Homo sapiens: one gene and its partners. The protein of the gene in region 4 purifies or fractionates together with the protein of the main gene of each other region. This does not show direct contact. Each region holds a gene or a part of one and is shown on either strand. Other genes may lie near its edges.

Evidence for each region.
Region 1: the proteins of CEP170 (region 4) and VTI1B purify together in Homo sapiens (affinity purification with mass spectrometry; 2 studies listed by BioGRID and IntAct, with this or other methods). This does not show direct contact.
Region 2: the proteins of CEP170 (region 4) and ASB7 purify together in Homo sapiens (affinity purification with mass spectrometry; 2 studies listed by BioGRID and IntAct, with this or other methods). This does not show direct contact.
Region 3: the proteins of CEP170 (region 4) and DAPK3 purify together in Homo sapiens (affinity purification with mass spectrometry; 3 studies listed by BioGRID and IntAct, with this or other methods). This does not show direct contact.

Annotation. Positions count from the first base shown.
Region 1 is NC_000014.9:67,657,624-67,664,649, reverse strand, and holds part of VTI1B (vesicle transport through interaction with t-SNAREs homolog 1B), read left to right. Parts: intron 1-2,114; coding exon 2,115-2,173; intron 2,174-4,727; coding exon 4,728-4,919; intron 4,920-7,026. UniProt on the Homo sapiens protein: V-SNARE that mediates vesicle transport pathways through interactions with t-SNAREs on the target membrane. These interactions are proposed to mediate aspects of the specificity of vesicle trafficking and to promote fusion of the lipid bilayers.
Region 2 is NC_000015.10:100,598,488-100,605,609, forward strand, and holds the start of ASB7 (ankyrin repeat and SOCS box protein 7), read left to right. Parts: upstream 1-4,101; 5' UTR 4,102-4,559; intron 4,560-4,727; 5' UTR 4,728-4,826; intron 4,827-7,122. UniProt on the Homo sapiens protein: Probable substrate-recognition component of a SCF-like ECS (Elongin-Cullin-SOCS-box protein) E3 ubiquitin-protein ligase complex which mediates the ubiquitination and subsequent proteasomal degradation of target proteins.
Region 3 is NC_000019.10:3,961,090-3,968,115, reverse strand, and holds part of DAPK3 (death-associated protein kinase 3), read left to right. Parts: intron 1-3,124; coding exon 3,125-3,485; intron 3,486-3,742; coding exon 3,743-3,872; intron 3,873-4,196; coding exon 4,197-4,245; intron 4,246-4,446; coding exon 4,447-4,473; intron 4,474-6,603; exon of another isoform or gene 6,604-6,702; intron 6,703-6,954; coding exon 6,955-7,026. UniProt on the Homo sapiens protein: Serine/threonine kinase which is involved in the regulation of apoptosis, autophagy, transcription, translation and actin cytoskeleton reorganization. Involved in the regulation of smooth muscle contraction.
Region 4 is NC_000001.11:243,126,260-243,133,285, reverse strand, and holds part of CEP170 (centrosomal protein of 170 kDa), read left to right. Parts: intron 1-3,832; coding exon 3,833-3,926; intron 3,927-4,985; coding exon 4,986-5,037; intron 5,038-6,547; coding exon 6,548-6,837; 3' UTR 6,838-7,026.

The DNA of each region.
Region 1 (7,026 bases), on a different chromosome or scaffold from region 4:
TGGTGGGTGCCTGTAACCCCAGCTGCTCGGGAGGCTGAGGCAAGAGAATCGCTTGAACCTGGGAGGTGGAGGTTGCAGTGAACCGAGACCGAGCCACTGCACTCCAGCCTGGGAGACAGAGCAAGACTCTGTCTCAAGAAAAAAAAAAAAATTGCTCTTTAGTTGGTGGAAGTGCTGCTGGCTTGTGTTTAGGAGTCACATTGAAAAATACATAGCTTTAAAAGGCCATATCCCCATACGTGCAACAGCATAGATGAACCTTGACTTTGTGCTAAGTGAAATAAGCTAAACACAAAGGACAAATATTGTATGATTCCACTTAATGGTGTACCTGGAGTAGTGAAATTCATAGAATGGGGAGGTATTTGATGGGTACGGAATTTCAGTTTGAGAGGATAAACAAGTTCTGGAGAACAGTTAGTGGTGATGGCTCCACAACGGTGTGAATGTACCTAGCCACTAAGCTATACCCTCACAAATGGTCAAAATGGTAAATTTTATATTACATGTATTTTGCCAGCCTAGGTGACCAGTGAGACTCTGTCTTGAAACAAACAAACAAACATTGTAAATGATGGTAACTTTATGGTGATAAGTAGATTATGTGTAGATTTCCAGGGAGAACAGTCATTTGGATGTATAAATTTTTTTAAAAAATCAAGCTCCTCTTAAAAGGAGCTAATTTTTGCTTGTTAGATATAAGGGAATGACCTACTTCCTCATTTTGTAGTCAATGAAGGAGAATGTGAGGTCCCAAAGAAATGAAGGAAATTATCTAAGTTTACATGCTGAGGCAGGCCCGAACCTGGCACCAGAACCTCACCCCGCTGACTAACCAGAAAAGGTGCTTGTATGCCTTTCCCCCATACAAATGTTTACCAGGTGACAGCATTCTGGTACCACCTTCATAATTTTTGCCATCCGCAAGTATCATTATTACTGTCACTTACATTTTATTTATTTATTTATTTATTTTGAAATGGAGTCTCCCTCTGTCGCCCAGGCTGGAGTGCAGTGGCACAATCTTGGCTCACTGCAAGCTCCGCCTCCTGGGTTCACACCATTCTCCTGCCTCAGCCTCCTGAGTAGCTGGGAATACAGGCGCCCACCACCACACCAGGCTAATTTTTTGTATTTTTTAGTAGAGATGGGGTTTCACCGTGTTAGGCAGGATGGTCTCGATCTCCTGACCTCATGATCCGCCCGCCTCGGCCTCCCAAATTGCTGGGATTACAGGCGTGAGTCACCGTGCCCAGCCTTGTCACTTACATTTTCTTTATGTCAACTTATTTCATGTAAAATACATTTATTTAAAACAATGTTATTTAAAAATGAAACTTGCTATCATATTTTAGATGGAAAACCTGTAGTATAAACTATCAGAAAATACAATTAAGACAATACTGTTTTAGTTAGATGTTTGTTTTGAAGCTGAAGCCTGTTCTATTTTTGTTCAAAGGGGAGATTAGTAATTTTTAGGTATTAAAGATACACTCAACCAAAGGGACAGAATGGGAAAGGCTGAAAGGGGAATGAATAACGTTCTCATCGTTCAAGTCATTGCCGGTGCCACACCCAGAGAAAAACAAGCACCACACCAGACAGCCTCTCAGCAAGCCGAGTAGGTGGAATTTTTATTTTGCAGAAAAGTAGTGTACGAGTTAACATAGAAGTGGTTCACTGTGGGAGTGGTGAGGGGTTTCAGAGAGTCACTATTGGTAAACATTCTTTTTTTTTTTTTTTTTTTGAGACAGAGTCTTGCTCTATTGCCCAGGCTGGAGTGCAATGGCGCAATCTCGGCTCATTGCCACTTCCACCTCCTGGGTTCAAGCATTTCTCTACCTCTGCCTCCCAAGTAGCTGAGATTACAGGTGCCTGCCACCACGCCCGGCTAATTTTTGTATCGTTAGTAGAGATGGGGTTTCACCAGGTTGGCCAGGGTGGTCTTGAACTCCTGACCTTGTGATCCACCTGCCTTGGCCTCCCAAAGTGCTGGGATTACAGGCATGAGCCACCAGGCCCTGCCATAGGAAGCTTATTCGAAGCAGAGGGAATGGCCTTTACAAATGTGTGGAAACAGTAATAAGCATTTGAAACTTATCTATCTTTTCTAGAAGAAAAGAAGAAATTGATCAGGGATTTTGATGAAAAGCAACAGGAAGCAAATGAAACGGTGAGAACAAGGAACAAATTTTGTTTCTTCTACCTGGTGTTGGTCTTTTCCAGAAGTAATGCTATGAGCTGATCACAAATTAACTGTTCCTGTCCATTGATCTTGATTTTGACTATTTCTTACTAAATGAAGCCAGTTGATGGGGATGGTTGTTGAGGGGGTTTGGCAAACAAATGGGTGAAGCCTGAAGATGCTCCTGAAATGTGACTCTTTGGTAATATATTGCTGATGTGAGTAGTAAGGGCATTCTCATACTTTTACCCAAGCAGTCTTTTAAAATCTGTTGTTTTTTTTTTTGTTGTTGTTGTTGTTGTTTGTTTTGAGACAGAGTCTCGCTCTGTTGCCCAAGCTGGAGTGCAGTGGCACAGTCTCGGCTCACTGCAAGCTCCACCTCCCGGGTTCACACCATTCTCCTGCCTCAGCCTCCCAAGTAGCTGGGAATACAGGTGGGCGCCACCACACCTGGCTGTTTTTTTGTATTTTCAGTAGAGATGGGGTTTCACCGTGTTAGCCAGGATGGTCTCGATCTCCTGACCTCATGATCTGCCCGCCTCGGCCTCCCAAAGTACAGGGATTACAAGGCATGAGCCACCGTGCCTGGCCTAAAATCTGTTTTTAAGAGCTGGCCATTAAGATAGGTTACTGGTCAGTGCGGTGGCTCACGCTTGCAATCCCAACACTTTGAGATGCCAAGGTGGGAGGATCACTTGAGGCCAGAAGTTCAAGACCAGCCTGGGCGACATAGGGAGACCCCCCATCTCTACCAAACAAAAAAAAATTACCGAGGTTTGGTGGTGCATGCCTCTGGACCCAGCTACTCAGGAGGCTGAGGTGGGAGATCACTTCAGCCTGGGAGGTCAAGCATGTGGTTAGCCACAGTTGCACCACTGCACTCCAGTCTGGGTGACAGAGTGAGACCTGCCTCAAAAAAAAAAAAAAAAAAAAAAGGTTACTGTTCTTTGTTAAACCTACTGTCACAGAAAATGTAGTTTAGAGGTAATTCTAACCATGTCCCTTTCTGTCTTAAGAGACAACATAGGAGCTGGAGTTGGTACCTCAGGCAAGACATGCATGAGTCTCAGTTGGTACCCAAAGTTTGTCAGAAGTTGGTTCCGTTTACTGAACAGTTTAACAACTGCTTCTCTTCACCTGTGGCTTTTCTTTAAAAAAAAAAAACTTTTTTTTTTTTTTTTTTTTTGCTCTAGCCCTATAGAAGCAAGAGTCCTTTGACTCCATCTCATCATACTCTAGCTTCAGCAAACTCATTAAGATTGGGGCCAAAATTCTGGTCGCTGCTAGTACTCCGCAGAAATAGTTGGCCCTGTATTTGCTACCCGAGAGCAGATGGAGAAAAAATTCTCTTTTGGCCAGCGAACTTCCTTCTTGCTTGTTGAAGATCAGTGTTTCAATTTCCCACTTATCCCAATGAAGTTCTGAGAAGGAAGCACATCTGCATCCTTTTCTCTGTTTTGCATCTGTTTTAAGAAAGACCAGGCCACTAGACTGTGGGAACTATCTTCTTCCTAATGGGAGTACTGGGAGCTTTTCTTAATACCTGTGTACAGCTGGGCATATCCATGATACCTGTTTGTAGCCATTCTCCTGTTTCAGTTAATACCTTGGTAGCATTTTTAAAATCTTCTAGCTGCTACTGATTTGTTTGATGCTCAGATACTTGTTTTCTCCAAACTCAGCAAAAGTAATAATCCTATGCTGCCCATTCCAGGCAGATGAAAATAATTTAGGGCCTCTTGTGGATGTGTCCAGGTGTTACATTTTACTTACCCCAGAAAAATGGAAGTCTGATTCCCCTAAAGCAGACTGCTCTGGGTAGGCCCCTGTTCTCTCTGACATGGAGACAAACTTAATTGATTTTCAGAAAGAGGAGCAGGAGAAGGGAAGAACCCTGATGCCAGACCCCTATCATTTTTAATACAGTAGACTTCAAAGCACTTCTTGATGGCAATGTTCAATCATACCAGGCTAAAAACTTGGTATATTGAAGAGAGCTGAGAGAATTTGAAGATTTTGAATCCTGACTCCTTTTCTGTTTAATTTTTTATATATATATAGAGATGAGGTCTTGCTATGTTGCCCAGGCTGTGCTCAAGTGATCCTCCTGCCTCGGCTTCCCAAAGTGCCAGGATTACAGGTTTGAGCCACTGTGCCTGGCCCGGACTCCTTTTTGTGCGATCTTCAGAGGTTTCTTTAAGTCTTATATATGAAATGGAGCATTTCCTACCTTATTGATTTGTTGTGAGGATTAAATGGAGAATGTATATAAAAGTGTTTAGTAAGCTATAAAGTACTTCTGTTTTTCCATTCATTCATTCAGTTCATATACTCGAATGCCTGCTCTGTGCTTGCTGGGCACTATGCAAGGCATTCAGAATGAGGGGAACATGCCAGACATGGTCCCTGCCTCATGGAGCATATGGTTATTTACTTGGTGTAGTCCAAATAAATAAGTAGTTTGATTAGTCCAAACTAGGCATATTTCCAAATGAGTGAGGGAAGAACCAGGCTATCTGCTCACTACTTTCTGCCTTCCCAGCTGGCAGAGATGGAGGAGGAGCTACGTTATGCACCCCTGTCTTTCCGAAACCCCATGATGTCTAAGCTTCGAAACTACCGGAAGGACCTTGCTAAACTCCATCGGGAGGTGAGAAGCACACCTTTGACAGCCACACCTGGAGGCCGAGGAGACATGAAATATGGCATATATGCTGTAGAGAATGAGCATATGGTAAGTTTTAGCTGTTTTGTTTGTTTTTTTTTTCCTTTAAGGGCCTGTGGTACAAAAATTAACTATATTGTTGGGGTATTTCATGTTATCAGTGTATACTAGACTCTTGTTTCATTTTTTTCACCCTTATCCTCTTTTCTGCATCCAGTTCCTGTTACCCCTTGGTATCTGCTCTATTTAAGGCAGGCCTTTCGAACTATATGCATATTTAGATTTCTTTTTATCCTTAATATAATACAGTCTTATAATAAAAAAAAAACAGTGCTTTGTATGTAGTAGAATGTAAATGTTACCTATTCTTATTATCTGGATTCTGACTCATTGATCTAATTTCTTTTCTCCTTGATCTTTTTTATTCTCTCATATAAATTTTAGAATCACTTTCTCAGGTATGCCTGGAAAATTCAGTTAGGTTTCTAATTTATCAGAATATTGTTACAAAATCAATCCAAGCTTTCCTTTACCTTAATGTCAAGATGGCCCAGCAACTGAGATACAGTAGCCAATGCAGGGCGCTTCTCGAGAAGGAGCTTTTTATCATTTTATTCTGTGGTAATAGAAAGTGAGCAAGACTCCCTCTCTAGCTTTCAGGATTCTGATTTATAAAATTGGACTAATTGAACATCTGTATTCTGAAACCATCTAGAGCAGCTAGATCGTTAAAGGAATAAAACGTCTGAAAGATTAAATGTGCTGCATTTGGTCTGTCTTCCACAAACACAACACAAAGTAGAAATTCTCTGGCAAGTAGCATGGCAGAGAAATGGAAAGGGGCCCACCAGTGCAGACTGAAAGGCTCATACTACAATTTTAAACAAATCCTGTTTCACGATGCATCCTGATTATAGTTTAAGAGATATTCAGGATGATATTGGCTTGACATTGCTGATGCCAAAACTAGATCCCTTGAGAATGAAGTACTTAAAATTTTCAAATGGATGCGCGAGGGATTATCACAGATTAGAAGCTGACAGAAGATCACTTGTAAAGGGAGACTGGAAACAGGCAGGCAGGTGGAGCTGGTTAAAGTGGGAGTTGTAAAAGTGACTTTAGTCATGTTGCCAAAGTTGGGGAGGAAGTCCAAACAATTTTGCTTTAAAATTATGAGTTTCAGAAATTATTATTATTTTTTTTGAGACGGAGTCTCGCTCTGTCACCCAGGCTGGAGTGCAGTGGCGCAATCTCGGCTCACTGCAAGCTCCACCTCCCGGGTTCACTCCATTCTCCTGCCTCAGCCTCCCAAGTAGCTGGGACTACAGGCGCCCACCACCACGCCCGGCTAATTTTTTTTTGTACTTTTAGTAGAGACGGGGTTTCACCGTGTTAGCCAGGATGATCTCCATCTCCTGACCTTGTGATCCACCCGTCTCGGCCTCCCAAAGTGCTGGGATTACAGGCATGACCCACCACGCCTGGCGAGTTTCAGAAATTATTAAAACATAATTTAGGTATCCATACCTTCAGAAAAAGTATTGTTCCAAATCTGTCTGAAGTTCATTTATGTGATCTGATCTTTTCTTAGTCATTTTTTAGCCTACTCAGTTGAAAATCTGCATCTTTTATTTTGAAAACCTTTTTCCTTCTTCCTTTGCGCTAACCTAACTGGTTTTATTTGAACCTCATTCAGTGGTTTCCTCGTCTACTGGTCTGTATGCCATTTATTAAGTGAAAATGCTACAGAGCGCCGGGCACAGTGGCTTACGCCTGTAATCCCAGCACCTTGGGAGGCTGAGGCTGGTGGATCACCTGAGGTCAGGAGTTCGAGACCAGCCTGGCCAACATGGTGAAACCCTGTCTCTACTAAAAATACAAAAATTAGCTGGGCGTGGTGGCGGGTGCCTGTAATCCCAGTTACTTGGGAGGCTGAGGCAGCAGAATTGCTTGTGCCCGGGAGGCAGAGGCTGCAGTGAGCTGAGATCTTGCCACTCCACTCCAGCCCGGGCGACAGAGCGAGACTGTCTCAAAAAAAAAAAAAAAAAGAAAGAAAGAAAATGCTCCTTGCTACTTCTGTTCTGGGAGCCAATCTTTTGGCTCCTTGATGGTCCTACTGCCAGTGGTCACTTGCTCTGTACTAGGCCTCTGTGAGCTGGGTCCCTTTTGATTTTGG
Region 2 (7,122 bases), on a different chromosome or scaffold from region 4:
ATGACACATCTGACAACGTACTTGACAGAAGCAACACACACTGAAGCACCATCTTAAAATGGCTGTGGTAGAATACCATAGAAGACCAAAATCCCTTAAATTACCAGGGCAAGAACTATAAGGAACTCAAAAGCCTCCAGTTAGCTTCCTTTCTTTCGGCGTTCTTTTTGCTGTGATGACCAAGGTCTGAAATACAATTTCTCTACCCAGCCCCATCGCCTTTTCTGCCAGGTACAGCTGAACTAAGTTGGGCTAACAAGGCAAATGATGGGCTCCAAACTGTGCTGCATCTGTCTTTATGGTGGCCCTCTTTATTACACCAAGATCCCCAGACACAACCTGCTGGCCCAGAACACTGCCTGCTGCCAACTAGAGCATAACCTGCTCATTCTCTCCACCACCAAGTGCTTTATGGGCCAGGACACAGCCTCCTGGGCAGTGGTCCTTGACCTTGGAATCTGACCTTGACACTGACATCACTGGAACATTAGGAAAAACCCATGAGCCTTGGACTCCCTAGAGACCAGCTAAATCAGAATTGCTGCAGTGGTGCTGGGGCATTTTTCCAATGACAAAGTCTCTTTCTACTCAAGAAATAAACTCAATTCTGATTGAGTCAGGGTTTCATGAATCAAGCTTCATGAATACTTATCCCAAATTATTTCACTTATATGTTGTAAGATGTTCCCATTTTTGTGAGTTTTATATTATTAACTAAGTTAATGGGAAATGAAGTGTATCTGTTAAAACCTAATCAATATTAACTTGTTATAAATATTCCGCAATCTAAACTGCTTTTACATCATTGAAAAGTTATAAAAATTAGCAAATCTGATAGCACCAATTCAATAAAGCAATTTAAAATTACCTAGTAGCACATTCTGTGAAACTTTGACAATATGATGTTACTTGGCTATGATATAATCATGTACTTCAATCATTTGAAAATGGTTGTTTAACTCAAAGGCAGGATTTTTAATGAAAAACAAATGGCCAGAAATACAAAGAACTAGGAATTAGGAGACAACTCTGTTTCTAGGCTCTTCACCAACAAGTTCTTAGGCCCCCATCTCTCTACTTAACTATCATTTAGCAAATACACCATATGAATTGCATGGGTGCCGAGTCTGCTATAAGAATGAATATGTTCTCCACAACAATTTACATATTTATTCATTTCTCTCTCCCTCTTTTTCCTTCTTTTTGGGAGTTCAAAACTTCTTGACTCTATAATTAGTAAATGTTATAAAACTGAACTTGTACATTATATTTGAACTGTTAAAAAGCAAAATTTGAGGCTGGGTGCAGTGGCTCACACCTGTAATCCCAGCACTCTGGGAGGCCGAGGCGGGTGGATCACCTGAGGTCAGAGGTTCGAGACCAGCCTGGCCAACGTGGTAAAACCCCATCTCCACTAAAAATACAAAAATTAGCTGGGTGTGGTGGAGTGTGTCTGTAGTCCCAGGTACTCAGGAGGCTGGGACAGGAGAACTGCTTGAACCTGGGAGGCGGAGGTTGCAGTGAGCCAAGCTCGCACCACTGTACTCCAGCCTGGGCGACAGAGGGAGACTCCATCTCAAAAACAAAAACAAACAAAATTTGAACAAATTTAAAGATGTAAATGGCTTTTATTAGCAATTTATGAATCTGGCAGCATCTCAACTAAAAATTTAGAAACGGTGTTCTGATTAGCTGAGCAGAGGTGGGCTGAAAACGGTTGAAGAAGCAAAAAGAGAATAAAAGACAGATTGGTCATTTCAAAGTTAAACTTTCCTCACAGAGACCAAATGGAGGAGAGACTTCTTTATCATGCTGGCTCAGGTAAATCAGGCCTCCTTGACTCCTTGCTGTGTATCTTCTGGATTTTTTGACAACTGGCCCATTTCTAAGTTGTTTGATTATGTGACACCTAGCACCAGCAACTCCATTCTGATTTGGCCTGGTCTGTTGGGCCTAGTGCAGGGGTTTAATCTAAAACAATGGCTTCCTATACATTTCATTTAACAATACTAATAAAATACCGCTTTTATTTTATTTGTTTACATTGGAGTCCTGCTGTTAAGCAAAAAAAAAAAAAAAAAAAACAGGGAGAAATCATGGTAGAATCGAAAGACCGAAAGCTACTAAAAATTGATAGCATTTAATAGTCCTGAATAAGTTGTTTCTAATTATAATTCAGCTACTAATTTCAAGAAGAAATGGAAATTTAGAAAGTTGAAATTATGAAATATGATTGCTGGGAAGTATAATGGGACAAAAATTAAAAAGCTGAATCTATCTTCACTGCCACTACTGCACTTCTACTCTGGACAACTGCAACCGATCCCTTCCAAAGTGGTTGTATCCAGGCCCACCCTACACCCACTTCCTTCTGAAAAACCAATCCACTTTCCTTAGGATACAGTCCAAACTCCTAAACAAGGCTTACCAAGGCCCTTCAAGATCTGACTCTCGGCGTCTTCTCATCTCTATGCCCCACTCCCCAGTCTCATTACCAGTCATTTTCCTACCACTCTGCTTCAGCTACCCTAGCCTTCTTTCTGGCAGTTCCTGTAAACAGCAAAGCATATTCTAGCATCAGAGGCTTTGCATTTCTAATTCTCTCTGCTGGCAAAATTCTCTCCCTAGATCTTGGCATGGCTGGCTCTTTGTCATTCAGATCCCTGCTCAAATGTCACTTCCTCAGAGACCTTTCCTATCTGTCTTAGTCCGTTTCCTGTTGCTTATAAAATAATTCCTAAAACTCGGTAATTTATAAAGAAAAGTAATTTATTGTCTAGTTTTGGAGGCTGGGAAGTCTAAGACTGACGGACCACGAGACAGCACCGCAAAGTATCACGTGGCCAGGGGGCTGAGCAGGCTCACGAGTTGTCAAGTCTCTCCTTAAAAAGCCACCAGTTCTACCTCCGTGATAACCCATTAATCCATGAATAGATCAATCCACTCGTGAAGACAGAACCCTCACGGTCCAACCACCTCTTAAAGACTCTACCTCTCAGTACTGCCACATTGGGGATTAAATTTCAACATGAGTTTTGAAGGGGACAGATATTCACACCATAGCACTACCTATCTAATACAGCCCATCACGTCCTGGTCAAAATCGATTCCACCATTCTGCTTGATTTTCCTCATATAACCCATCCCTATCTGATAATTTTGTGTTTGTTTCCCCGAAATCACTATCTTGTTCACTGTTGTCTCCCCAGGGACTAGAACAGTGGCCAGTAAACACTTGCTAATGAATAAAGTGCTTAACAAACGTGTCTTGATCAGTCTATCTCGCGTTTTCCCCACGACCCCTCTCCATTCATTCACAGGAACCCGCCAACGTTGCTATCCTTTCAGGAAGGTCCTTGGATCGTCATCGCTATCCCAAAGAGAGTCCGTTCTCCCACTTCAGGCGAGGCATTGCCAGCCTGGAAGCTAACGGGGTCTCAAGGACCGACAGCCGCGCCAAGACCGGGCACTTGCGTCTGACAAGCGCTGAACAGGGGCGGAGAAACAAGGCACCCCTCTACTCGCTTCCTGGAGCCTGCCGCCCTCCCAACCTTAAGCCCTGAACCAGGCTCTCATTTGGCCGCACTCGTGCCTCCCCTGCTGCCAGCACGGCGGCCGGTCCCGGTTACCTGCCTGGGATCTGGCTCAGGCGAACTCTCTTCACACCGCCATTTGAGGGAACACAAATGCCCGCTCTGGGCCACCGTAGTTCACAGAAAGTACAAGCTGGCACCTCCTCCCGCATGCGCAGAGACCGCCTTCGGCGAATAGTGTCTCTTAGCAACGGCTTTGAGTCCCTCCGCCAGGGGCGGAGCCTCGGAAGCCACCACGGGGAAGCTGTAAGGGGAAGTGAGTGAGACCAATCGGAGACGAATCTCTGCCCCGTTCGGCACGCCTCCCTTAACTGTCGCGAATGCAAAGGCAACTTTACGGCAGGCAGAGGGTGGGGGCTGCCGGGGGTAAGGAGGAGAGAAGGAAGCAACCAACCAACCAAGTCGTCCCTACTCCCTCCACCCCCACCCATCCCGGACCTGGTTTACGGCTCCAGGCTCAGGCTCCACTGCGGGCGCTGATTGGTTGTTGAAGGCTTGGTCCCATCCCAGTGACCCCAAAGTGCTGAAGGGAGGGGGCGGGGGTGGCCCAGTGCAAAGTGCATCCCGAAAGCCCCCTGTCCGGAGACCCCACGGCTGGCACTTCGGGCCCCGTATGACCTGGGACCTCGCCGTCCCGAGACCTCCTGGGTCCCTCCGTAGCTGGAAGCCTCCGGCCCGGAGCGCGGCAGCCCCCTGCTCCGAGCCCTGGACCGGGACTGCCCCCCCACCCGAGCCAGGACTTCCTCCCTGCCTCCCTGCACCTCTGCCCCAAGGCTGCCCGGCGGCCGGGATCGCCACCTCCTGCCTTCTCGGCTGTTCGGATGTTCGCCGGGCTGGGGCCGTGAGGCACCGAGGAGGATCAGGAACACCAGGGTCCGGCCCTGCCTGGGGTATTTCTTCAATGGAGAAGTTGGTGAGTGTAGAGGAGGCTGAAAGGAGGAAGAGAAGCAGCAGCTGAGGAGACAGGTAAAGTCCTTTACTTCCCCCGAGGGGAAGAGTGCTGGCTGGGAGGGTAGGAGGGAGGAAAATCTCTGCTTTTTCTTGCCTGCCCTTGCCACTCTCCAGCCCCTTTCCTGAGCTCCCCCCTCCCCACCTCTGAGACACTACACCACTCACTGGTTTCTGTTTTTCTAGGTTTGAGCTGGCTGAAGAAGACGCGAAAGCAGGAAGAGGTCTGCCCACCTATCAGAGAAGCAGAAGGCACAGTGCCTCTGACCAGCATCGTCTGTAAAGGTAATGAGCCAGCCCTCCCCTCCCCCGTTGTTTATTCCTGGCCCCTACCTCATTAAGCAGTGGTTTATTTTCAGGGTGGTTGCCTGGGAATGCAACCTTTCCTACCCCCCCCACCCCCACCCCCAGTTTCCCAGGAAAAACAAAAACATTACCCGTGCCTGATACTTAACATTTTATAACTTCTCTACCCAGGACAGTATTTTCCCACTTTCTTTCTGTACAGTGTGTTTCTGTGTTTTTCATTATCTTTTGGTACACTGTGCCATTTACTCTGCTCTGAGGCTTTGAGACCTTTTTGTAGCTACCCTCCCTTCCTTACTCTCATAGGAATTCCTCAATTCCTTGTTAATTGCTTGTTAATTCTGAATGACTTTCCTTTTTAATTAAACCACAATTTACTGTTTTCCCCCTTACTCTTTCCTATCACCTTTCTTCTACCTGCATCAGAAAAATCTTTTGAGTTATCTAACTGACAACGATTTGGTAGAGAAAGGTAAATTATTGGCCTGAGATTTATGAGTTTCAGAAAATAGTTTGATTTTATTTCCTACTAGAAAGCCAACCTGTGTACCTTAAGAGTGTGAATGGTATGAAGACAACATTATTACCCTGAAGCACTTAGGCATAATTAACTCTTTGGGCTTTCTGTGTGTTTGTGTGTGACAAATGTGGATGGGCTTTGAAACTTATAAAGATACAATGTTTCTTACACCTCAGATTTTCTAGGAGAACTTTTAAAAATTTGCACAATATCTTATTAATCGTTTGACTCAGGAATTTAAAAACAAAGGAACCTTTTGGTGTGTTTACATATCTGGGTCTTAATTTTAGCACTCTATAAAAAAGATTTCTCATTTTAAAACTTTTACGTAGAGTTTGCTGGATTGAAATTTAAGCATCTAATTCATGTGATCACATTTCTGCTGCCATATTTTGTTGCTGCTTCTGAAAATGCTCTGAAAGTAAACTTAGGACATTAGTGTAATTCCTAAAGGGGGGATATAAGCATGGAAATTATACAAGGTTTAATTCCAAAATTAGCCAAATGGATGACTTTTTTAACATCCAGTAGCAAAAGTATAAAGTGACTTGTTAATCTGAGTTATTTTAATATCCCAAATTGTTTAGGGAATTTTTGTTACAAGGAAGTGCTTAAAATAGCAGAAGTTAATATTTTTGATTTCCTATGTTCCACTGGACTTTCTGCCCTCCACAAAAAGAAATTAGTATCTTTACTGATTCTGTTAATTCTTAAGACATAGCTAAAGAGATAAAGACATAGCTTTTAAGGGGATCTGAGGTATGCATATTCTTGAGACATGGAACTGCATGCCAAAAGAAGAGATTCTAGGGAATAGGATTTAGAATCAGTATCTACCAATGACTGTTCCCTGTTGAAAACTTAGGGCAGCTTTTGTATGTATATGTAGGGAATCAGGAGTACTAGACTACATCATTTCAGTAAAAGCTACCCGGAAATCTTTAAAGGCTAATTTTTATTATGTAAGTATGGAAGTTGTCAGGGAGATGGCCTAATGATTACTTCAGAACTTTTAAAAAATGCTAAAATATTTGAAGTATGTTCTAAAGATCAAAATGAAGTACTGTGTTTTGTATTCAAGCCTCTCAGTTAAATATTTTTTCAGCTTTACATGTAACTCTAGGACGCTTTCATTTCTAAAGAGTAGTTTCACCTGAGATGGTAAAGGGAAGGAGTCTGTGGCTAGTCCAGCACATAAGGTAAGAGAGGATAAGTCTTTACTCTGGCTCTCAGCCAGTTCATTCTCATTGCTTAAATCGTATTTCATGGATCATCTCATTTTTTAATAGTTTTTCTAAGATTAGGGAATATGTGTAAATTGTCAACATCTGTCATGTTTCTAATATCAGAATGACTGAGAGTATTTGGTCTAGATTATACCAGGCATTTAGAATATTTAATTTGGGTATTTATTTACCAACATGGCTAGTTAGGTAGCTTACATTTTTTAACCTGGCAGTTAGCTTTGTATTAATTCTATTGCCAATCATGTGGCTTAAAAAAAATCCAATTTATTTCGTCACCAAATATAGATTTATAATCACGTAGGGAGAATAATTGATTTTAATTGAAGATATGCAATGATGCATCTTTAGTATACTGTGGCCAGTACTTACATTCTTTACACATAAAGTGATGTCATTTACAATTAGTTAATACTATGACACATACAGTATCTCTTTAATTTGTTCACGTTTAACTTTGGTGACATAGAGATACACACCATCCCTAAAAAGTCTAAAGCCAGATATGATT
Region 3 (7,026 bases), on a different chromosome or scaffold from region 4:
CGGCTTCCGCCTGTAATTCTAGCGCTTTGGGAGGCCAAGGCGGGAGGATCGCTTGAGCCCAGGACTTCAAGACTAGCCTGGGCAACATAAGTTGACCCCCATCTCTCAAACAAACAGAAATTCATAATTTTAAAAAAAGTATTTAGCCTTCTGTTTTTGCCGTGAAGCCTTGGAGGTCTGGTGTGTATTTCATGTCGCAGTTTTTCTCGGGACTGGCCACACCTCACGGGTTTGACAGCTCTGGGTGGCCAGTGTCTGCTGTTCTGACGGCACTGCTTCAGGTAGTGGTCTGGAACATTCTCAGAGATACATGAAGTGCAAGATGAAGGCCCAGAATGTAGCAATTTTTGTTTGTTTGTTTGAGACGGTGTCTGGCTCTGTTGCCGAGACTGGAGTGCAGTGGTGCCATCTTGGCTCACTGCAATCTTCGCCTCCCGGGTTCAAGTGATTCTCCTGCTTCAGCCTTCCAAGTAGCTGGAATTACAGGCGCCCACCAACGTGCTCAGCTAATTTTTGTATTTTTAGTAGAGACGGGGTTTTGCCATGTTGGCCAGGCTGGTCTTGAACTCCTGACCTCAAATGATCTGCCCGCCTCTGCCTCCCAAAGTGCTGGGATTACAGGTGTGAGCCACTGTGCCTGGCCCCAGCCCACACTTTTTTTTTGAGACGGAGTCTTGCAGTGTCGCCCGGGCTGGAGTGCAATGCCGCAATCTCAGCTCACTGCAACCTCCGTCTCCCAGGTTCAAGCGATTCTCCTTGCCTCAGCCTCCCGAGTAGCTGGGATTATAGATGCCTGCCAGCACGCCCGGCTAATGTTTTTGTATTTTTAGTAGAGACGTGGCTTTCACTATGTTGGTCAGGCTAGTCTTGAACTCCTGACATCGTGATCTGCACGCTTTTGCCTCCCAAAGTGCTGGGATTACAGGCGTGAGCCACTGTGCCCGGCTTCCCAGCCCGCATTTTTAAACATCATGAACTCTATCAGTAGAAATTGTCGGTGTGTAGGCCACGCTTGGGTCGTGTCTGGGTTGTGGCAGGCACTTAGGAAGTGGGTTGGGAGTGACACCTGAGACCATCACTGAGGAGGGCTTGCTGTGCCCCCACCTGCGCTGGGGGCTGGGGAAGTTACAGAGAAGCGAAGAGGGTGGGCTCAGCTCTTGGGGAGTTTCTTTCCCGGCTGGGGAGATGAGGCACGTTTCACATTCCGTAGAGGAACTGAGAGCCTGCCAGTGGCCTTGCCTCTAAGGAGCAAGTCTGTGGCCAGTGAGACCGGGGGCTGTCTGGAGGTGGGCGGCTGTGGTCTGCTGTTGCTGTAGGAGGACTCAGTGGCAGAACCTGAAATCTGGTTGGCAATAGCAAAACAGGGAAAGGCGTGGTTTACAGAACCAGGTTGTCCAGGTGTGCAGCGGCCGCAGGTGTGACTGGGTGCTGGTGCATATGGTGCCCTGTGTCCCCGGGGCCGAAGTCCACTCCAGCATGGAGGAGGCGCCCTGGCAGAGTGAATGACGGGGCTTATGTGCCACCCGCAGTGCCTGGTGGCTCCCCTCTCCTGGCCTGGTCTGTTCTTAGGCAGGCTTCTTAGGTAGCCTTCTACGTGGTGGCCCCTGCCGCGAGCCTGGATCCAAGCCCAGCAGAGGGAGAGAGAGATCCTCTCTTCCCAGCAGGCGTTCAGAGCCCTGTGGACTGGACCGGTCTCTTTGGGCTGGAAGGCGTGGTTTTCTGCTTGCCCAGGTCCAGTCGTGTCCCCTTCCACCCCTTTCCTGGGCCACTGAGTCCCACAGACTGAGAGTGAGCGGCAAAGGCTGCCCTGGGACAGCTGGGTCTGTTAGCAGGAGACAGCGTGGAGCCGGGAGGTAGGCACGCAGGAACCCGGTACCCAGCAGCAGCTGTCTGCTTCCTGTTAGAGCACCTGGGCTCTGGAGCCTGCAGCACCTGGTTTGAAGGTTTGAATCCTCCCGCCACTGACTGACTGCATGACCTTGGGCTAGTTGCTTTCCTTTTCTCAGCCTTGGTTTCTTTAAAATGCGGATACTGGCCAGATGTAGCGGCTCCACCTGTACTGCCAACACTTGGGGTGGGGGAGTGGGAGGATCTCTTGAGGCCAGGAGTTCCAAAGCAGCCTGGGCAATACGGCAAGACCCTGTCTCTACAAAAAATAAATAAATCAGGTGTGGTAGTGTGTTCCTGTAGTCCCACCTACTTGGGAGGGATCACTTGAGCCCAGGAGTTCGAGACCAGCGTGGGCAACATAGTGAGACCTCATCCTTACAAAAAGAAAAAAAAATTAATTGGGTGTGGTGGTATGTGCCTGTAGTCCCAGCTGCTTGAGAGGCTGAGGCAGGAGGATTGCCCGAGCCCAGGAGGTCAAGGCTGCAGTGAGCCATGACTGAACCACTGCATTCCAGCCTGAGCAACAGGGCCAGACCCTGTCTCAAGACAAAACAAAACAAAAACAAAAAAAGCGGATCTGGCACTTGCCTTGCACTTTTTATTTTTTTGAGGCAGGATCTTGCTACGTTGCCCAGGCTGGAGTACAGTGGCACAATCTCAGTTCACTGCAACCTCTGCCTCCCAGGTTCAAGCGATTCTCCTGCCTCAGCCTCCCAAGTAGCTGGGATTACAGGCACCCGCCACCACACCCAGCTAATTTTTTGTATTTTTGGTAGAGACAGGGTTTCACCATGTTGGCCAGGCTGCTCTTGAACTCCTCAGCTCAAGTTATCTGCCCTCCTCGAACTCCCAAAGTGCTGGGATTACAGGCGTGAGCCACCGCGCCTGGCCCCCTCAGTTCCCTCTTGATATGCATTGAACTGTTCATTCTTTCACTTTTCAAAAATACGCCGGTGCCATGGTGTTAACGTGTGGCTCTGCACTCCCCTCCACACACCTGCTGGGCATAGCCCTGGGAGGGGTGGGAACGCCGCGTCTGATGGTGTGGGGCGCTAAGGAATTGCTCTCTGAGAAGGCGCAGAGTCTGCACCCCCGCAGTGGCCAGCTCATGTCCTTCAAGTGCCTGGTGCAGGGCCGCGCCCAAGAGGAGCAAGTGGAGGTGACGGGGAGCCAGCCACCCCCACTTACTCCCTCCGCCTCCTCCACCCCCACTCACTCCCTCCCCCTCCTCCAGCGGCCAGTTTGCGATCGTGCGGAAGTGCCGGCAGAAGGGCACGGGCAAGGAGTACGCAGCCAAGTTCATCAAGAAGCGCCGCCTGTCATCCAGCCGGCGTGGGGTGAGCCGGGAGGAGATCGAGCGGGAGGTGAACATCCTGCGGGAGATCCGGCACCCCAACATCATCACCCTGCACGACATCTTCGAGAACAAGACGGACGTGGTCCTCATCCTGGAGCTGGTCTCTGGCGGGGAGCTCTTTGACTTCCTGGCGGAGAAGGAGTCGCTGACGGAGGACGAGGCCACCCAGTTCCTCAAGCAGATCCTGGACGGCGTTCACTACCTGCACTCTAAGCGCATCGCACACTTTGACCTGAAGGTGAGCCCTGTAGGGCCCTGTGGGGCCGGCCTGGCCAGTGTGGGGGTGGGGATGGGGCGGGGAAGAGCCTGGAAGGCACCTCCTGCGCGTGGGGGTGAGGTGTGGGGAGCGTGGGGGTGAGGTTTGGGGAGCGTGGGGGTGAGGTTGGGGGAGCGTGGGGGTGAGGTTGCGGGGAGCGTGAGGGTGAGGTTTGGGGAGCGTGGGGGTGAGGGTGGGGGAGGCCCGTGCTTTCCCTGCTGAGCCTCCTCCCACCCCAGCCGGAAAACATCATGCTGCTGGACAAGAACGTGCCCAACCCACGAATCAAGCTCATCGACTTCGGCATCGCGCACAAGATCGAGGCGGGGAACGAGTTCAAGAACATCTTCGGCACCCCGGAGTTTGTGGGTGAGGCCCTGCCCAGTGGGCAGCCCCGGCCTGGGGAGGGTGGTCTGGGGCTGCCTGCTGTGCGTGGGGTGGGTCATGCCCGGTGCTGGGTGCCGCGTCCTCGGCCCTGAAGCCACCCCTCTTGGGCCCGGCTTTGCGGGAGGTCTGGGCCTCCATTTGGTGCAGCCCCGCTGTCCTACCCGTCAGGCCCTGAGGGCCAGCTCTGCCGCATTCATGCCCCCAAGGGCTGCGACATGTGAGAACCTTGACCCCATGCCTGTGTCTTGAGCCTCTTCCTTGGCCAGCATGTCCCCAGTGCCTGACCCACATCTCCCTGTTCTGCAGCCCCAGAGATTGTGAACTATGAGCCGCTGGGCCTGGAGGCGGACATGTGGTGAGTGTACCACCTGCTCCCACCGGGCCTCCCTGCATTCCTGGAGCGCAGGCCAGTGCTGCAGCTGGGGATGAAGCGGGGCCTTGCTGCTGTTGGGGTATGGGGGGACCGTTGCCCTAGAACAGGGGCGCTGGACGCCACGGTCCTGGGAGGGTGGGCGGCCCCACGCTGCGCTGACCCTTGCCTCTTGTCTGTCCCCAGGAGCATCGGTGTCATCACCTATATCCTGTGAGTACCTGGCGGGGGCCCCCTCGGCTGTGCAACACAGCTGGCATGGGTCCCCGGCTCCGTGTGTCTCATGTGGACGCCAGGGGTCCCCAGCCTGGCTGTGACCCATCGCGGGTACTCAGGGGATACCGGGTGAACGGATGAGTGATTCTCTGTGGCTGCTGTCACAGAGGCTTCTGGAGAGTTCTGAAGGCAGGACACTCACAGAGCGGCTGAGCAGGCTCCGGGTTGGGGGTCGTGTGTGCTCCTGTCCCTCTGGCTGCTAGGGAGCCCAGCCTCCTCTCGAAGTGCAAGGAAGGGGTCCGACCCCACGCTGGGTTTTGGCTCCTGTCCCTGGGCCACACGTGGGCCTGCTGTTGTTTATTATTTTTATTTGTTGAGACGGGGTCTTACTCTCTTGCCCAGGCTGGAGTGCTGTCCTAGCTCACTGCAGCCTCCACCTCCCAGACTTAAGCAATCCTCCCACCTCAGCCTCCTGAGTACCTGGGACTACATGTGCACACAACCATGCTCCCATGCTCGGACTTTTTTTTTTTTTTGATGGAGTTTTGCTCTTGTTGTCCAGGTTGGAGTGCAGTGGTGCGATCTCAGCTGCTCACTGCAACCCCCACCTCCCAGGTTCAAGCGATTCTCCTGCCTCAGTCTCCTGAGTAGCTGGGATTACAGGCGCCCACCACCATGCCCAGCTAATTTTTGTATTTTTAGAAGAGACGGGGTTTCACCATGTTGATCAAGGCTGGTTTTGAACTCCTGACCTCAGGTGATCTGCCTGCCTCGGCTTCCCAAAGTGCTGGGATTACAGGCGTGGGCCGCTGCACCCAGCTGGCTAATTTTTTTTTTTTTTTTTTTTTTTTTGAGACAGAGTTTCGCTCTTGTTGCCCAGGCTGGATGAAGTGCCAAGGCCCCGTCTCAGCTCAGGCTTACTGCAACCTCTGCCTCCCGGGTTCAAGTGATTCCCATGCCTCAGCCTCCCAAGTAGCTGGGATTACAGGTGCCTGCCACCATGCCTGGCTAATTATTTGTATTTTTAGTAGAGACGATGTTTCACCATTTCGGTCAGGCTGGTCTTGAACTCCAGACCTCAAGTGATCCGGCCGCCTTGGCCTCCCAGAATGCTGGGATGACAGGTGTGAGCCACCGTGCCCAGCTGGCTAATTTTTAAAAGTTTTTGTAGAGGTGGAGTTTCACTGTGTTGCCCAGCCATATTGAATGGGCATAGCTCATTCAGTAAGCAAGGAAATAAACAATGGCGTGGGCCCAGCCCGCTGTAGTGCGTGAGCGGACCCAAAGGCTTCAGGAGATGGGCTAGACCGTTTGTATTCTTTTTAAATGTTCAGATAATTCAGACTTACAAAGGAGCAACAGAAACAGCACAGACGCCCCCTGCAGCTTCCTCCTCCTTCAGTTTACATTTTTCATGAACACGAACGTTATGAACACCAAGACGTTAGCCTTGGTGCTACGCTAATCACAAAAGTGCTAGATGGGCCGGGTGCGATGGCTCACGCCTGTAATCTCAGCACTTTGGGAGGCTGAGGAGGGCAGATCACGAGGTCAGGGCATTGAGACCATCCTGGCTAACACGATGAAACCATGTCTCTACTAAAAATACAAAAATTAGCTGGGTGTGGCAGCGGGTGCCTGTAGTCCCAGCTACTCAGGAGGCTGAGGCAGGAGAATGGCATGAACCCAGGAGATGGAGTTTGCAGTGAGCCGAGATCGCGCTACTGCACTCCAGCCTGGGTGACAGAGCGAGACTCCGTCTCTAAAAAATTTAAAAAATTTAAAGTGCCAGAGGTGGTTAGACACCCCCGTTTTCCACTCCTGTCCTCTCTGAGGTCCCCACACGGCATTTAGCCATTCAGCTCCTTCGCCGCCTCCAGTCTGAGGCTGTTCCTCTGTCTGGCTTTCATGACCTTGACCCTGACTTGTGCTCACGGGTCAGGTGTTTTGCAGAAGGCGTCTGAGTCCACGTTTAGTCTCGTGCGCTGTCACGATCAGACGATCAGACGGGGCTTCAGTGTCTCTGCTCAAAACCCCAGGGATGATGCTGTGTCACCCTCCCAGCGTCAGGCTGGGAGGCAGACGCTGTTGGGGCCTCTCACTGCCGGGCTGTTGACCTTGATCCTTTGGCTAAGGTGTTGGCTCGGGCTCCCCACTGCAGTTACCCTCCCCTCGGCGTTACTGAGCACTGGGGGCTTTCGGGCTCTGCGTCTGCACAGATACTTCGAGTCTCCAAGGAGACTTCTGCCTGTTCATTTCTGCTGCTGTCAGTGGCGGGGTGGGGGGGTGGATTTTGAATGCCTCTTGGGTGGTGTCTGGGATCGTTGCAGGAAGGTTCTAAGGGCTCAGGAGTGTGAGTGGCCCAGGCACCTGCCGTCAGCCTGTCTTCTGTGCTCCGCCTGTCGTGGGCAGCCGGAGAGGCGGCGCGGCCGTGGTGGGAGCCCAGGACCCCACTGAGCCCCCACGCCTGTCTCGCAGCCTGAGCGGTGCATCCCCGTTCCTGGGCGAGACCAAGCAGGAGACGCTCACCAACATCTCAGCCGTGAACTA
Region 4 (7,026 bases):
GTAGAAGGCAGGTAAACAGTTAATTATAGTTCAGTGTGTTAAGGGAAATATAGGATGGTTACTATGGAAGCCCATAGCAAGGGCACTTGGGAAATTCAGAGAAGGGCTCTTAGAGAAATTGCCATGCAATTTAAGTCCTGAATGATGAGGAGAGGAGTTACTCAAAAGCTATGTGAAGTGAAAGGGCCAGAGTATGGTGAGAGATGACACTAGAGAGATGAGGATGGATCTGTTTTGGCAGAATTTGTTAAGGAGTTTGGATTTTATTATTAAAAACCATAGGAAGCTAATATATCCAATATGGGTCCTCTTGATACACCAGTGCTATCTGTAAAAATATCATGAGAGTCTTGTATGGTCATGTGGCTTGCACCTGGAAAACCCTGGAGTCTCCTTACCTGTAAACAAGTACACAGTGTTTTTTCATCCTACCTACTGAAATACAGGTCCGTCCCTGCTAACTGGAGTCTTAACCACTCATTCATTTATTCAGCAGATGTTCACAGATTACCTGCTGTGTACCATTCTCTTCCTTACCACGGAGCAGCTTTCCTACGTTCTGTAGTCTCCCCCAAAGAAAAATATTTTTTGTAGCTTTGACATTGAACTAAAATTGAGAACAAAGAAGACATTGCTGATGGATTGATAACCTGTGTTGTCTCAGAAAGTGACAGAATTTATAAAGTTTAAAAAAGGATGCATAAAAATGCCTCAATAAAGTTATACATAAATACAGAATGTTTAATGTATTTGAATTGCCTTCAGTTCGAGTGTTGAGTTTTACTATGCATAAAGCACTATGGCAGGCTTTATGGAAGGTAATGAGGATAAAACCATTTCTATTATTAAAGAGTTTCCAGTGTAGTTGGCAAGGTGAGGCACATATGCAATCAACTGTCGTACAAGATAGCGTATAATAGATTAGTGCTCAGTTAGAGATATAAAGGCAAAGGAAGGATCACTTTCACCTAGGAGGTTTAGGGAAGGCTTTGGGAAGAAGATACTATTCAAAGGTAGGTCTGAGTTGTGATAACCAAACCTAAGGGGTAGAGACCTGGGCCTTCTGCGTGGAAAGTGCCAGGGTAGTTTGAGAATCAACTGGTCTTTAAGCTTTGTGTCAGGAGTTATAACCTCAAATGTCTACTGGGGTTCATCCTAGAGGCATGCGTACTTACATTGTATGAACACTGTCTGTGGAATCCATTTTTAAATATTTATACAGGAACTCCTGTTGTACAGCATTCTCATTGCATTCCATGTGAAAATGACCCCCTTAGGTTGTGTAGCATGGCCTTGCATTGGTAGACTCTCAATTCGCAACTCCGCGTTCGCATGTTTTAAGGGCTAGTACTAGGGAATTGGTTATGGCTCATAGAATAGGAGCCTGAGACTTCTGTTTGTTTCCCTAAAACCAATGGCTTTATCAAAAGTATTTTAACTTAATTCTTAAATTATTGAATGAAATAAGCTTTGGAATTTTATGTATTTTCATGCTGAAGTTTAGCTTATTTTGAATCTATAATATAATCTGAATATCACTTTGAAAGCTATGATTTTTTCAGCTTAAAATTGATAAGGACCTTCAAACAAAAACAAGTTCTGGTCATTATAGCCTGGTCTAAACTAATTTCTTGGTCTGGTTTTCTGATTCTCTAGTATTTAAATATTAAATATTATAGTAAATATTATAGTAAAGTTTATTTCATAATGCCAAAATGACAAGTTTGACTTCTTAGATCTGTTCTATTATATATTACAAATTGTTTTTTGTTTTTTTGTTTTTTTGTTTTTTGTTTTTTGTTTTTGAGATGGGCTGGAGTGCAGTGGCATGTTCACAACTCACTCACTCAGTGCAGCCTCGACCTCCCTGGGCACAAGCAATCCTCCCACCTCAGCCTTCTTAGTAGCTAGGACTACAGGCATCTGCACCACACCTGCTAATTTTTTTGTATTTTTTATAGAGACGAGGTCTCGCCATGTTGCCCAGGCTGGTCTCGATCTCCTGGCATCAAGTGATCCACCCACCTTGGCTTCCTAAAGTGCTAGGATTACAGGCATGAGCTATTGTGCCTGGCCAACAAACTGTATTTTAAAATAAACCATTTATTTCTTCAGGGGGGCATTTTTTTTTCAGGGGCAACCCGTGAAAAACCCATTTTCACCAAAGGTGAAATGTCTATGGTTTAACAGTTTTAGATCCACAAACACTATACTCAGTAGCCATCCTCTGGAAAAATTCACTGAATTTTTAGCACTGTGTGGCTAAACAGAGTCTTTCTCTATTGTATAAGTCCATTACAGTTCTAAGCTGGTCCATGAAATAGTCATTATTTCCTTATTTTCCATCAGTCCTAATGCTGCAAGGACTCTTTTACAAGAACATAATAATTTAGAAAAGATGGCTGGCAAGGGTGTTCATTTTTTTGAGTTTAGAAAATTTAATAAGTAGGCCATAAGAATATTCTTATACCAGATTCTAGACCCGTTGCCACCTTAAGCAAATGTTCCAGACTTGATGTGATGTTAATGAGTTTCATGTTTTTAAATAAGGTAAGTCTGGCATGTTGATCTTTGAAGAAATACCAGCACAAATATTAACTTAGTTTACTACTTAAATGCTGATCAGCTTGCAGTAGTAATACATTTACATGAGGTTATATAGTGTTGTTTAAACTAGATTTCCAGGCTTACTGAAAAAAATTTAAAAGAAACCAAAAAAGTAGCTAGTATTTACATCTAAGACTGCTGAATCATGTCTGATAGACTCTAAAGTGTTAGAAAAGTGTCCCACATTTGAAAGACACGTCAAAATTTTGTGGTCCTTTATTTTATAAGTTATTTGATGTTAGGGTAATGATAGGATAATTATCTTTATTGGCAATTGTTTTTATCAAAAGGGTAGCATCCTAATTCCTAATAGGTTATTATGTGCAAGTATACTAACACGAATTAACAATTGTTAAAGAAAAGCACAGTAAGTACTCCCAATTTTTTGTCTTCAAAATAATATACACACTTTTCTTGATCGATAAGGTGCTTATTCCCATATAAAGAGGTCTTAACAGACACAATTGTTTATACCTAATTCAACCTATTTTCATCTCACTTATTCCTATACTGCATATATTCTGTCTGAATAAAATTGCATTTTCTTTATAAGTGACAGTTACACAGTCTTTTCTCCTTATACCCAGGTGATACATGTTGTTCCAAGATACCCACTGGATGCCTGACACCACAGATAATTCTAAAACCTAATATACTGTGTATTTTCCTACACATACATGCCTATGATAAAGTTTAATTTATAAATTAGGCACAGTAAGAGATTAACAATAGTAACTAATAATAAAATAGAACATTTGTAACAATATACTGTAAAAAAAAGTTATGTGAATGTGGTCTTTTTTTTTCTCTCTCTCTCTCTCCCTCTCCCAAAATACTGTAATAGTTACGGACCATGCTTGACTGCCACTAACTAAAACCATGGAAAGAGAAACTGTGGATAAGAGGGCATTACTGTATTGTAAATTATAAATATTAAAGTTTTGAGGTCATAACATCATTTACATTTGTTTTATATTTTGTTTTCAATAAAGAATAAGATAAACAGTAAAGAATTTATGCATGTATTAATAAGCATTCAATTGGAGCTCATACACATGAATTAATTGGTACTGTTGGCTTAGTATTTTAATTCTCAGTTTATGCGGTGGTTGGTTTTTTTTCTTTGTGTACCTTTGAAAAGATACATTGCTTTGGTATTATTAACAAAAAAGTAATAGGTTTTTAAAATATAAAAAGTTATATGCTTATGTTTTTTGATTTATAGAATATTATTTAAAGACAAAGATCGGAATTGGGATGACATAGAAAGCAAATTAAGAGCCGAAAGTGAAGTCCCTATTGTGAAAACCTCAAGCATGGTATAGTAATTTTTCTTGAAGATTAAAACATTTTAATAGAGTTTTATTTTAAGGAAAAGACCCTTATTTTTGAGCTGTTCGTTGATTTGCTTTTTCAAAAGAAGATATAAATGCAAAATTTTGGGAAATTTTATTTCTTCTACTGACTCACAGGTTTAAAATGTTGATTGTTTCAAAGTTGCAGAGGGTATGAAGGAGGAGCCTTTTGTGTTTCTTACTAGTATAGATTGTTCTTGTAATAATTAAACATTAGAAACATGAAATTTTTAAAGAGAACCAAATCTAACATGAAAATATTAAGTTGACATAAGTCGTTTCCGTTTACTTAATATAATGCTTATCTTCTTTTTAAAAGAATTTGTACAGATTTTCATTGCTCAGAATATAATTATAATATTGAGGTTGCAGTTTATATGTTTTTACAAAGATAATTTGAAGGCATTTTTACATAGTTATTGCAAGGTTGATTAATAAGAATTTTAAAAATCTTTGCGGCCGGGTACTGTGGCTCACGCCTATAATCCCAGCACTTTGTGAGGCCAAGGAGGGCGGATCACTTGAGGTCAGGAGTTGAAGACCAGCCTGGCCAATATGGCGAAACTCTGTCTTTACTAAAAATACAAAAATTAGCCAGGCATTGTGGCGGGCGCCTATCATCCCAACTCCTTTGGGGGCTGAGGCAAGAGAATTACTTGAACCTGGGAGGAGGAGGTTACAGTGAGCCAAGATTGCGCCATTGCACTCCAGTCTGGGCGACAGAGTGAGACTCGGTCTCAAAAAAAAAAAATCTTTGCTTAAATAGTAGTAAATGTTAAACTTTTCATCTGCTACAATCATCTCACTGAAAAAGTTATTGTATTTCATTTTAGTTTAAATATTTTAATTTGAATCTTGTTTGCTAGATATCATAATTATTTCATATCATGTTGCTATTAATGTAGTAAGTACCATGTAGATAATATTAAGTGTTCCAAATAAAGTGAGAGTGAAATTCATTGCTTGTAAAGTGATAACATTTAGCTAAAAGTAGGCTAATTTTTGTTATTGCTTTCCCTGCAGGAGATTTCTTCTATCTTACAGGAACTGAAAAGAGTAGAAAAGCAGCTGCAAGGTAAATTTACTACTGAATTAAGTATAAAGAGCTAATAATTTAGAATAAGTGCCTTCTGAGTGGTATTTCTTAAAATATTGTTAGGATGTTATTTGATTAAATGTAATGACATACATAAAATACAGAGTTCAAACATTCACATTATTCATAAAAAGGAATTTTTTTAAACCCAGTATAAAAATTTAAAATGTAATAAAGATATATGTTGGGCATATTTTAGTTCATAGGTTTGACAGTAGGCTAGATGTCATAAACTAATTGAAATTTTTTATGTATTACATATAAATAATATGTGAAAAATATATAATAAAGTTGTGTTAATTAGCATTATTTGTGTGATTTGACAGTTCTTAAATTATGTTGGTGGTGTAACCTGAAACAAACTTACATTCTAATAGAAATAATAGTTGTTTGGTTGACAAGAAATGAGTACATATTGGCCATAGAGACCAGAAGAGAAAGGAGAGAAGAAAGTGAAAGAGGCTGCCCTCTAAACTTGTCAGAGCTGGGCTGTGCATTAATGCCTATGTATGTCTTGACCCAGAAGTCCCCAGTGGTACAACAGGCAGGTTCCATAGTCAACTGCTAATTCTACTGAGTCTTTATCTATCGAATAATCATAGGTACTTATGTGGATCCTATCAAAATGATTTTTCATCTTTATTTAGCCCCAACACACCTAAGGGTTATGGTACACCCCATGAGTAAAAGTGGCTTGCTAACACAGTGCTTGTTAGCTGGTAGACTGGGGGTATACTTTTAAAAGTCCCTTCTACATGATTCTTACATCTATGTTACTTCCTTCTCCCAACTCCCTACTCTGCCCAATGCCAAATTGAAAATCACCGCCTGAGAACTTTCCATGTCAACCCAAAGATCTTTTGGACTGAAAGCTGACCTTTAACTGACCCCTTCCATATAGGCAGCAAGTCTGTTTGGCTTTGCAAGCTGCCCTGTGATATTAGTCTGTAGGCTCTGAGGGAACCCCTGTATCTCAGTGGTGTATACAGCTGATAACCCTAGCACTCTGGCCAGGCTAAATGACCGTATTCTATGGTAGCATTCAAAGTATGCTGATGTTCTTCTGGCCTCTCCAGCCTTGAGGTTACTCTGAACCCTGACTTAGCAGCTAATACCTCAGTTATCTGAGTGATGTGGGTTTAGATGTTTATTAAAAATCATATTCAGTATTTTCTCGGTCCTCTCACAATAATGAAGACAAATTTCAACAAGATTTTTCTTGAATTCCACATCTTCAAATACCAGACTTACAAGTCTCTGAAATGCCCGTAAGTGCCACATCAAAGGACCCAGAGAAAGTATTCAGGGCTGGGTGATTTACAGTACAGCTACAGAATAACTAAGAATGGAGTTTTAAATATAATATTGGAAGATTAGCCACATTTAAGATCACATACGCACTGATAGTTTAAATATTATCCAAATCATGAACAGTGTTTATATGTGAATGTAACTGCATCTAAAATTATTTCCTTTTCCCGCCCTTTAGCAATCAATGCTATGATTGATCCTGATGGAACTTTGGAGGCTCTGAACAACATGGGATTTCCCAGTGCTATGTTGCCATCTCCACCGAAACAGAAGTCCAGCCCTGTGAATAACCACCACAGCCCGGGTCAGACACCAACACTTGGCCAACCAGAAGCTAGGGCTCTTCATCCTGCTGCTGTTTCAGCCGCAGCTGAATTTGAGAATGCTGAATCTGAGGCTGATTTCAGTATACATTTCAATAGATTCAACCCCGATGGGGAAGAGGAAGATGTTACAGTACAAGAATGACTTTCTCTTGATTGTTGAAAAATCATTACCTGTGGAATGGCTAGGAATATTGGAAGCAGCATAGTGTTGATGTACGCAAAACAAGACAGCTTGGTCAGCTACAATCTTGGAATCCCTGTCTTCTTAATTTTATTTATTTATTTTTGACGTATAATGTAGTATATCAATCCTTTCAAACTATTTAGATAA